2 separate regions of the Homo sapiens genome follow, and region 1 is linked to region 2. The links come from fine-mapping of genetic effects on gene expression. Tissue or cell type: esophagus mucosa. Region 2 holds a variant in brackets; the other region holds the start of a gene. All regions are shown on one strand. Distances are between the middles of the regions.

Region 1 (5,144 bases), 59 kb before region 2:
CGCCAAAGCACCTGCACCTGCCCTGAGTCCTGTGAAGGAACAAGGACAGAAAGAGGACCCTCCTGCCTGCTCCCGGTCACTCCCACTTTGGAGCCAAGGGCTACTCTTTTCAACCTTCTTAACGAAGCTCTTGCACCAGGAAGAAGGGCTTTGGACTGGCTTCTTTGATTTCGGGGCATTTGTTCTGTATCTTTCTTTGGGGAGGCTTTGTCTTCCTCGCTAAAATGCCCTTTAGGTGAAGACAAGACAGGGTCTTTTGATGCCTTGAGCCCCCACTGTAGCTCACAGGGAGCTGGGAACTGAACTGGCCTGGAGATGAGGGGTAAACTGAACTGAAAGTGAAGCATTTCCCAGGGCAATCCCTCTGGGCAAGTGAGCCCATGTGTAAGGTACAAGGGCTGCTGCAGGAAGGGGATGGGAAAAACATTCAGTGAACCAGCCAGAAAAGGGCTGGAGAAGCCCCTCGGAGGTCACCTCATTCAATACCCCCCTACAGAAATTCTCTCTTTTGTCTCCAAAGCCCCTAGTTCTCACCCCACCCTCAGCCTTTGCTGCAAGAAGGATAGGAAGGAGAACTGAGGACATAGTCACTGGCCCAGCTGGTCTGACACAAGGACTTGCCACTCCAGGCTTGGCCTAGGGCTGTCCACACACCATGATTTCCACCAGAGCTGGGCCTCAACAGAAGGTAAATCAGATAGTACTACCAAGGGCTTTCTTTCTCCCAGAATATCCTTCCCCTCAGCTAACCCACAAGCAGGCAGTGTCGCTTCAGAGACCACCATGAGCTTCTTTCTTGTCCTCACTGAAGTGGCTCTAGTTGGAATCTGGCTCATCACTGACCAGCAGCTGTGTAAGCCTGGGCAAGTTACTTGATCTCTTTGTGCCTCAGTTTCCTCTTCTATAAAATGGAGATAATACAAATATCTCCCTCCTGGGGTTACTGTGAAGATTAAATGGCTGGTGGGTGGTACGACTCAGATGTTAGCTGTTATTTTATTCTTATGGCTATGGTTATCTCAGTTGCCACACTGGAAAGGACACTGAGATATCCACATAAATGGCACTTAGAGTCTTCCCTGCACAATTTCACACCTAGAAATCTAAAACGCTCCAGCAGGACCTAAGTATGCCTGTCCCACCTGCCCAAAAAGGCAAATACATAAAATGTGGACCTGTGCAGGTGTCACTAACATTGCAGAAAAGGGACAGAAGTGATGAAAAACAACCCAAGAGGGTGCCTCCTCTCTGAGGTCCCCTTTTCTTTCAAGGACCACTGGAACGGCCAAGAAATCCCCTCCCCCCAGGCAACTAAGCATCAATCCTTGCAGCTCCGACCCCACACCTCAGGCTTCCAGCTCCCACTCCACAGGGGCTCACATACTATGCCAGCCTCTTGTCCACCTGCCTGAGGATTTAGGGCCAGGAGAGGCTTCAAGAGCCACTGTCTTCTTGTCCTGATCCCACAACAGGATCCTCCCTTGGTCATGGGGACCCGGCATCACTGAGCTGGGTTGGGGTACTTCATGAGGACCCCTGAGGCCTCCTTCACTTCTCCCCACCCCCAACACATGCAGACAGATGGGAGATGTTTCCGGCGTGTGTGGGGCGGGGAGGGGGACGGGTATTGAGATTTCCACGGGACTCTGAGTGGTGCGTCTGCTAACAACACAGCCCTCCCCCTTGGGCCGTGGGCATTTCCTCACCCAGACCTCCCCCTCCCAACCCAAACACACCATCGCCGCCACCACCACAATCCCTCCAGTCCCCCTGGGCAAAAGCGATGTTCAGAGACGCGGGGTTTTGTTTACAATCTAATTTGTCCGGATAATTGCCTCAACTTTGCACTTCACTTTGCCCGCATGGCTCTGGCCTTGGGCCCCTTCTTCACTGGTTCGCAGAGCACTTTACGGGAAATTCCCTTTCCGCAGAGGGAGGCAGTGCGCGCCAGGGGGTGACCGTTCACAAAGCCCTGAAGGGGCCTCCCCACCTTCTACCCTCGGCTCAGGAAGCCCACCCCCAGCCCCCACGCAGTGGGGAGCAGGAGGGAGGCCAGACAGGGCCCGGGCCTGACACTGGCTCCGTCTCTGGGCCCCCGGCCACTCCCCGCGCCGAGCGCAGCCCGCCGGGAACCAGTGAACCGTGTGGGATCAGGACTTGGCCGTACCTTCAGACTCCAGGGGATGGCCGGGGTTTGCAAGCGCCCCATAGGATTAGTCCGAGGCCAGGGTGAATCCCTGGGGTCCCTCCACCTACCATCTTTTTCAGATCTGCCGCCTCACGTCTTCTCCCCACGTTCCCATTTTTCCTCCCCTAAAGTTTGGTGCACGTGGTTTTCTCTCGCTCTCAGCGGGCTGCCAGGCGGGGTGAAAGTTGCTGCACCTGCTTTAGGCGAATTATGGTAGCACTAGAAGTTGGTCTCCCCTCCCTCCGCCGCTTGCTCTCTCGCTCCCTCCTCCCTCGCTCTCCGCGCGCTCCCTCCTTCCCTCTCCACCCTCCTCCTCCCCCGCCCCCTCCCGCCCCGCCCGCGCGCCGCCCGCTCGCAGCCACTCGCAGCCCAGGCTCAGTCGCAGCCCCTCGGAGTCCGGAGCCCGCCGTCCCTGCGGACCGGACAGTGCGGCCGGCGGCCGGCGGCCGGGACGGAGCCCCCAGCCCGCGAGGAGGGCGCGGCGCAGGCGGCGGCGGCGCGGCGGGGAGGAGCCCGGGCCGGAACCAGGGCTGGGCCGGGGGCGGGGACGCCGGGGTCCGGGAGCCCGGGAGCCGGAGCGAGCTGACGAGCGTCGCGGAAGGACCGGGAAGGAAGAGCGGAGCCGGAGCGAGCCAAGCAGCCCACAAAGTGCCATGCCCCGGCGGGGTTGAGGCGCGCGGCGGTCGGCCCGGCGCGCTGGGAGGACGCCCGGGAGCTGCGCGACGCGGGGCGGCGCGGAAGGGCAGCCCCGGCGGGCGGCGGCGGGCCCGGGCTGCGACCGGAGCGAGCCCCATGCCCCGCGCGGGCTGACGGGCCGGAGCCCGCACGGAGCGGCCGGGCGGGACAGGTAGGTGGCGGGTCGGGCCCAGGGACGTGGGTGGGGGCTGGGCGGGCGACCAGACCAACTCCCTCGCTCGCGCACTCTCTCGCCCGCTCGCTGGCTCACTTTGTGTTTGCAAACTGCCCGCCCGAGACGCGCTGGGCGCCGGGCGCCAGGAGGAGCCGGGCCCGGGCCGGCGCACTTTGTTCCAGCCAGGGCCGGCCGTGGCGCACTGACCCCGCGCAGCCGCGACATTCCGCCCCTGGCCCGGGCCCCAGCGGGCCGGAGCTGCCTCGGGAACAGGTGGGGGCTGTGGCGCGGCGGGAGTGGGGGCAGCCGGAGGCCGGGGCGGGGAGGGGGGCGGCCGGAGAGGCCACCGAGGCCCGCCCTTCCCCAAGAATCTGGGCCCCGCCCCCTCCCCGCCGGGCCTCTGGGAATGGGGTGTACGGGGGCGCGACCCCCTCCCCGCCCCGAGTCAGACAAAGAATACTTCCCGGCCCAGACTTTCCAGAGCTGGGAAGGGAAGTGGCTCCCCCCAACTCTAGTCGGTACCGGACTCCCCAGGACGCGCCGGAGACAGATGAAAATGGGGGCAAGAGAGCGGGGGATCGCGGTCCTACCCGCCGTGTCGTCTCTGGTGAAGAGGGGACTTGTCTTGCTGAGGTCGCACCTCGGAAGTGCCAGGGCCAGTCAGCCCCTTTTCCATCGCTCGGTCAGCTCGGGGATAGAGCGGAAAACTTCTTGGGGACTTGAGAGCGTCTGGAAATGGCCCCTGTGATTTGTGCGCCGGAGGTGGAGGGTGGGGAAACGATCTGGCTGACACCTCTACTCACCCGCTGTGGAGAGAGCTCCCGCTTCACCACTTAAGGGGGGAAGAGAGGGCGGCCACGGGGGCCCGGAGGCCACCAGGGAAGGAGCCCGGAGTGACCGAGCAGGACCCCCCCCCGCCCCAACTGAGGAGTCTGGTATCTCCCCTGGACAACCCCAGCACCTCTCTGACCGGCGGCGCTTCAGCCTCGGGCTCCTCATCCACGCCAAACAAACTTCCTTGGGCTGCGTCAGAGCACAGCCAGTGGCGCTAGAATGCGACCTGGGGTCCCGGCCGCCCCCATAAAGGACCGGGTAATTTCGCGGAATGCGGATTTTGAGACAGGCCCAGACGGCGGCGGATTCCCTGTGTCCCCCAACTGGGGCGATCTCGTGAACACACCTGCGTCCCACCCCGATCCTAGGTTGGGGGGAAAGGGTATGGGAACCCTGAGCCCAGAGCGCGCCCCGCTCTTTCCTTTGCTCCCCGGCTTCCCTGGCCAGCCCCCTCCCGGCTGGTTTCCTCGCTCACTCGGCGCCTGGCGTTTCGGGCGTCTGGAGATCACCGCGTGTCTGGCACCCCAACGTCTAGTCTCCCCGCAGGTTGACCGCGGCGCCTGGAGCCGGGAATAGGGGTGGGGAGTCCGGAGAACCAAACCCGAGCCTGAAGTTGCCATTCGGGTGACTCCCGAGAAAGCCCGGGAGCATTTTGGCCAATGCGGGTTTTTACCTGAACTTCAGCATCTTCACCCCGGTTTCGGAGACCTGCCTAGATTCGTCCCAGCACGCACTGTTTCGGGTTCGGGATTGAGGGTTAGGGCAGCACACACAGCTTGAGGGGCAATTGTTAGGACTGGCCCGAGTGCCCGCAGAAAGAAAGAGCAGCGGGGTTGTCGTATGGCCTGTAGCTGCGGGAAGGTCTGTGCCGGTCCCACTGTCGAACCCAGAAGCTCACTTTCCACAGAAAACCAGGGCTGAAGGGCCCCCTGACCGCCATGCCCTGCGGGCACCGGGCATTTTGAGCTCTCCCCCACCCCCTCCCCCTGCTGCGAACCAGCCGGTAGGTGCAGGGGCCGAAGGCCAGGCCCAGTGGACCCAGCCGCCTGAAGGGGAGCCACGGCCTCAGAAAACCTCTGCCCGCCCCCGCGGAAAACCGCTGTGGGGAAGTCTGAAGGCCTTTTTTTTTTTTTTTTTTTTTCAACTTGAGAAACTTTTGCCTCGGGGTTTTGGGGCTCTGTTACCTGGTGGCTGGAGGGAGGATACTGGGGCTCTGCTCTTGGTACCTGGACAGCTTGTTGGCTCCCATGGTGCCCTTTCGATCTGAAACTC
Region 2 (5,118 bases):
AGCCCCCTTACTCTGCCCCCTTGAAGAAGTAGTCAGTTCTGTGGACCAGCCCCGGGGGCATTCTTCCTATGCCAGACTCTGGAGGGACAAGACTGCACCTAGCTTTATTCTCAGGACCGTCCTTCCCGCGGTCTAACTTCAGTTTCTCCTGCTTCAACTAGAGTCCTCTTTTTATTCCTCTCACAGGGATATAGTGAATGGTCAGTGCATTTGCAGGTGGGGTGATGATCTATTTTGGACACTGGTACAGGAGAGGGTCTTGCAATATAAGAAACAAGAGCTGTTATGAACCACCACCTTCTGGGTGCATTGGGCTTATAGACTCAGTAATTTATTTTCTTCCTGATCTGACATCCTACATGGGGCAGCCCTCCCACAATTATTACCTTATTCGAAGTATGAACCAACATGTCCACCCCACCCCCAACCCCCATCACGCTTTGCCTCAGGAAGCGCTGCATGCTGGGTATGTAGCTTCTCTCCTTTCTACTGTTAACTCACAGCCAGGGAGTAGGCTGTTAACTGCAGCTGGCAGCTTGTCCTGGTCTTAGCATTGCTGAGCCCTGTTGGGGAAGCTATCTTTGGAACCTGGGGAAAAAAAAAAGAGAAATACTCCAAGCCGGACGTTTTAGGGGTGGGATAAGTAGCGCTCTGCGCTCTGCATCCGACAGAAGTCCCCCTTCCCCTTGGCACTCAGCACTTCGCTCCCCCACCATGAACTCGCCACCTTGCCCAAGGCCTTCTTGCCGATGGTCAGCAGAGGGCGCTTTAAACAAAGCAGACCGGCTCCTCTGGACAAACTTGCCTGTTTCCGGGGCACAGAACAACTTCCCTGAGAATGCCAGCCGCCGTACAGCGGAGGGCTCAGTACCTGTTTTTAATAGTAATAATTATTAACAGTTAATGAGCCCTCATTATGTGCCAGGCACTATCCTAGAAGCTTTATATTTCATTTCATCCCCAAAACGACTCTGAGTTAGGTATTATTATCCCCATTTTATAGATGAAGAGACTGAGGCAGAGTCAAAGAGATGAGCAGATAAAGCATTAAGAATAAAGAATCTTTGCAGATGAGCAATCCGGGTTCTGGGTTTAAAAAAAAAAATGAACCTGTGGCTGACGGTGGGGAAAGAGAAGAGGGAGACCCTGTGGTTTGCCCCTGCTTTCTAGTGACACGATTTACTTTGGTGATCGCTGCTTCCCTCCTTCTCTGGAGGCTCCGAGTGGGGAAATGAGGCTCCGAGCGCCTCGAAGCTGGGAATTAGGCCCTGGCTTCTGAGTTCCCCAGCTGCCATTCTACTCTAAGCAGAATAAGGTAAATTGATCTTGAAACAGTCACTGAAGGACAGAGTGAGGCAGAGAAGTCTGAATTACCCTATAAAAATAATCAGACAGGGGCCCTTCTGATGGGACGGTGAGGCAGAGCAGTGCAGACAAAGATCCCCCTGTCTGTGGTGGGGACTTTAAAATGACACCCCTCATGCACAGCACACACCTTCACACACACATGCACATGCTACTACCCGATATACTGACACCAGAGGTCCCTTCCATCTGCAGTCATCTCTAGGTGACCAGAAATGGACCCCCAGGGTGGGACATCCCACCACACAGAACCCCCGACACCTCACTGGCCTGCAGTCTGCATCCGCCTCAGGATCAAAAGTTTAGAAAAACAGCCCCTCCTGAGAAGGCAGTCATGGTGGCAGCCCAGGCTGAAAGGCCCTCTGTCCTAGCCAGGAGGGGCCAGGGACAGGGCGTGGGGGCTGGCAACCTTCAGAAGACTGGCTGAATTAACAGGGACAGTGCAGTGGTGGGCTGGGTAACCAAGCTGGCACTCTGGGCTTCTGGCCCTGGCCCTCCCACGAGGGCCTCTCCTGCTCTGGGACCTGGAATGCAGGCCTGTCTATACAAGGCCACCATGCTTGGGCTCCAGGAGTGGGCCAGGTACAGGGGGTAAGGGTGGGTGGTCACCAGAGAAACACAGGGTGGGTCTCTGTTCTCTGAGAGCTGCTTCTCTGGCTGGGAAACAGATGGAGATCAGCCGACTGTCATGTGCTGTGAGGGAGTAAACACAAGGGTTCAAATCCTGGCTCTGCTGCTTGCCAGGTCTGTGGCATTGGGAAAGCCACTGGACCTCTCTGGGCCTCAGAGTTCTCATTTGTAGAATGGGGTGGAGTAATAATCTCTACATCACTGGCTTGTTGAGAAGATTAATGATATATAAAAAGATGTCTGGGCCGGGTGCGGTGGCTCACGCCTGTAATCCCAGCACTTTGGGAGGCCAAGGTGGGTGGATCA[C/T]GAGGTCAGGAGATCAAGACCATCCTGGCTAACAAGGTGAAACCCCGTCTCTACTAAAAATACAAAAAATTAGCCGGGCGCGGTGGCGGGCGCCTGTAGTCCCAGCTACTCGGGAGGCTGAGGCAGGAGAATGGCGTGAACCCGGGAAGCGGAGCTTGCAGTGAGCCGAGATTGCACCACTGCAGTCCGCAGTCCGGCCTGGGCGACAGAGCGAGACTCCGTCTCAAAAAAAAAAAAAAAAAAAAAAAGATGTCTGGTGCATAATATGCCCTCAATACATAATGGCTGTTAATAAAATGGAGTCCTGGGTGCCAGTCACCATAGGGGCTCAGAGGGACCTAAGTGCTTACTGGGGACCAGTGTATCCTGGAAGACTCCCTGGAAGAGTTCTGGAGCTGAGGAGGGGAAATTTGGGTAGAAAGAGGGGAGAAGAAAGAACATTCTAGGCCTGCAGGGGAACTGAGATGGAGCTTAGGGAAGGTTAATGTGGAAGAAAACAAAAAATTAAATGGAGGCAGCAGAGACAGAGGCCGAGGCAAGGAGGTCAACAGGGTCTTAGAAACCTGGCCCCGGGGCCGGGCGCGGTGGCTCACGCCTGTAATCCCAGCACTTTGGGAGGCCAAGGTGGGCGGATCACAAGGTCAGGAGATGGAGACCATCCTGGCTAACACGGTGAAACCCCGTCTCTACTAAAAATACAAAAAATTAGCCAGGCGTGGTCGCGGGCGCCTGTAGTCCCAGCTACTCAGGAGGCTGAGGCAGGAGAATGGCGTGAACCCGGGAGGTGGAGCTTGCAGTGAGCCGAGATTGTGCCACTGCAGTCCAGCCTGGGCAACAGAGCGAGACTCCGTCTAAAAAAAAAAAAAAAGAAACCTGGCCCCATCCCTGTCATTACCAACTGACTGGCCCTGGGCTTTGGGCAGGTGAATTGGGGTGTGGTTTCCTATAAAGTGGCCCTAGGACTCCCTGACTACTCAGAAGGTTAAGGGGAGAATTACCCGACTTGGTGGCATGAGCATGCCCACACCTGCTAATGCCAGTAAGTGGCGATGCTGCTGCTGCTGTTGATGCCACTGGGGAGTTTCCATCCACAGAGGGACTGTCTTGGACTTAAATAGGTACTTCACAGGTGTGGCAGGGGCCAGTGAGTGGTGCTGTGACCTTCAGAGGTGTGCAGAGCAGAGCCATAGAGATTCGACTTAGCAGGAAAGTTTGCAAGGCAGGGGATAGCTGAAAACACACAGGTGGACTGGGCAGGACACCTGGGGACAGCCAGGAAGGCTGGACAGGGAGACTGGGTTACTGGGAGGTGATAGTGGAAAGGCAGGCACCAGACAGGGGAGGACCCCGGAGGTCAAGCTGGGGACCAAGCTGGGGCTTGGGGGAGCTGTGCCCACAGGGGCATTTAGAGCAGAGAAGTAACAGGATTGACCTGAGATTGGGGGAATAGGCCAAGTGGAACCATATAGGGTGACAGGAGCCAATTAGGTGACTCTTGGGATTGTCCAGGTGACAGATGATGAAGGCCTAAGTAGGGTGGGGGGTTGCTTTGGAAAATAGTGTCAGGAGGCTTTTTGCAAAACAACAGAGTAAAAGAGGGGCTGTTGGCTACCTGAGAGAAAGGAGGTCAGGAACGAGCTCAACGGGGTCTTCCTAAATGTCTATTCGCAGGAGAGAGGGAAATCAAGTGTGGCACATTTGACAATGGAATATTATATTGCAAAGAGAATAAATAAAGAGCTCCCATCAGCAGGGTAAATTTGAGCAAAAAAAAAAAAAGTAAGTTGAAGAAAGATACATAGAGACTGTTCTCATTTGTATAATGTTTGAAAACATGTAATAATTCTATATATCATGTATGGGCACACATGTAGCAAACATTTAAATAATTTGTAGGAATGATAAATAACAAATTCAAGATGGTGGCTGTCACTCTGGGGAGGGGGATGCAATGGGGAGGAGTATTCAAGGGGCTTCAAGTCTGTTGGTAATGGTTAGTATTGGAGCTGGGTGGTGGGAACACAGAGGTTAAATCTGTTCTTCTCTGTACCTTTTTGTGGCTGGAATATTTCACTTAAAAATAAAAAAAGAATGGGCCAGGTGCAGTGGCTCATGCCTGTAATCCCAGCACTTTGGGAGGCTGAGGTGGGCAGATCACCTGAGGTCGGAGTTCGGGACCACCCAGACTAACATGGTGAAACCCGTCTCTACTAAAAATGCAAAAATTTGCCGGGCGCACCTGTAATCCCAGCTACTCGGGAGGTTGAGGTGGGAGAATTGCTTGAACCCGGGAGGCGGAGGCTCCAGTGAGCTGAGATCGTGCCACTGCACTCCAGCCTGGGCAAGAGAGTGAGACCCTGCCTTTAAATAAATAAATATATAAATAAATAAATAAATAAATAAATAAATAAATAAATAAAGGGGGGATTTAATAAATAAATCAATAAATAAAAGAAGAATGGCCCCAAGATTTGGGGTCCGTGCCACAGGAATAATTCTTATCCTCTCAGCCCCTGTGGGCTCAAGACAAGCAAGGGAAAAGATAAAATGTTAAAGGGGTTTGCAGGGGTGGCAGGACATCAAGTGGCTCCCATGCCCAGGACTGGACAGATGGAAATTGGCAAAGCACATCTGGGCCCACATCTGGTGGTGGGGCAGGAGATGTGGCCACAAAGGAAGGTGGGGATAGTCCGGGGATGGCAAGGAAGGAGAACCACAAGAGAGGGCAGTCCTGAGGGTTCACTGTGACAGAGGCCAAAGGGTTCCCAAAATTCGAGGCCTGGGAGCTGCTTCCATGGACTTGGCAACTGGAAGCTT

Evidence for each region. PIP is the estimated chance that this variant, and not a neighbour inherited with it, causes the effect.
Region 1: FOXP4 starts here. The variant in region 2 is fine-mapped to the expression of FOXP4 in esophagus mucosa (GTEx, PIP above 0.99).

What each region holds. Positions count from the first base shown.
Region 1 is chr6:41,543,833-41,548,976 of GRCh38, forward strand. FOXP4 (forkhead box P4) reads left to right here and starts at 2,549. Exons shown (of 17, transcript NM_001012426.2): 1 at 2,549-3,035. It overlaps FOXP4-AS1 (FOXP4 antisense RNA 1), which reads right to left and starts at 4,789. Exons shown (of 2, transcript NR_126415.1): 1 at 4,546-4,789. RefSeq lists silencers at 559-853, 1,896-2,165, 2,496-3,175, 3,246-3,425, 3,716-3,865 and an enhancer at 2,236-2,345.
Region 2 is chr6:41,602,483-41,607,600 of GRCh38, forward strand. No RefSeq gene overlaps it. Among named protein-coding and RNA genes, the nearest start is that of MIR4641, 6.3 kb to the left of the region's middle. RefSeq lists an enhancer at 589-883. The variant C/T (reference allele first, on the strand shown) is at 2,302.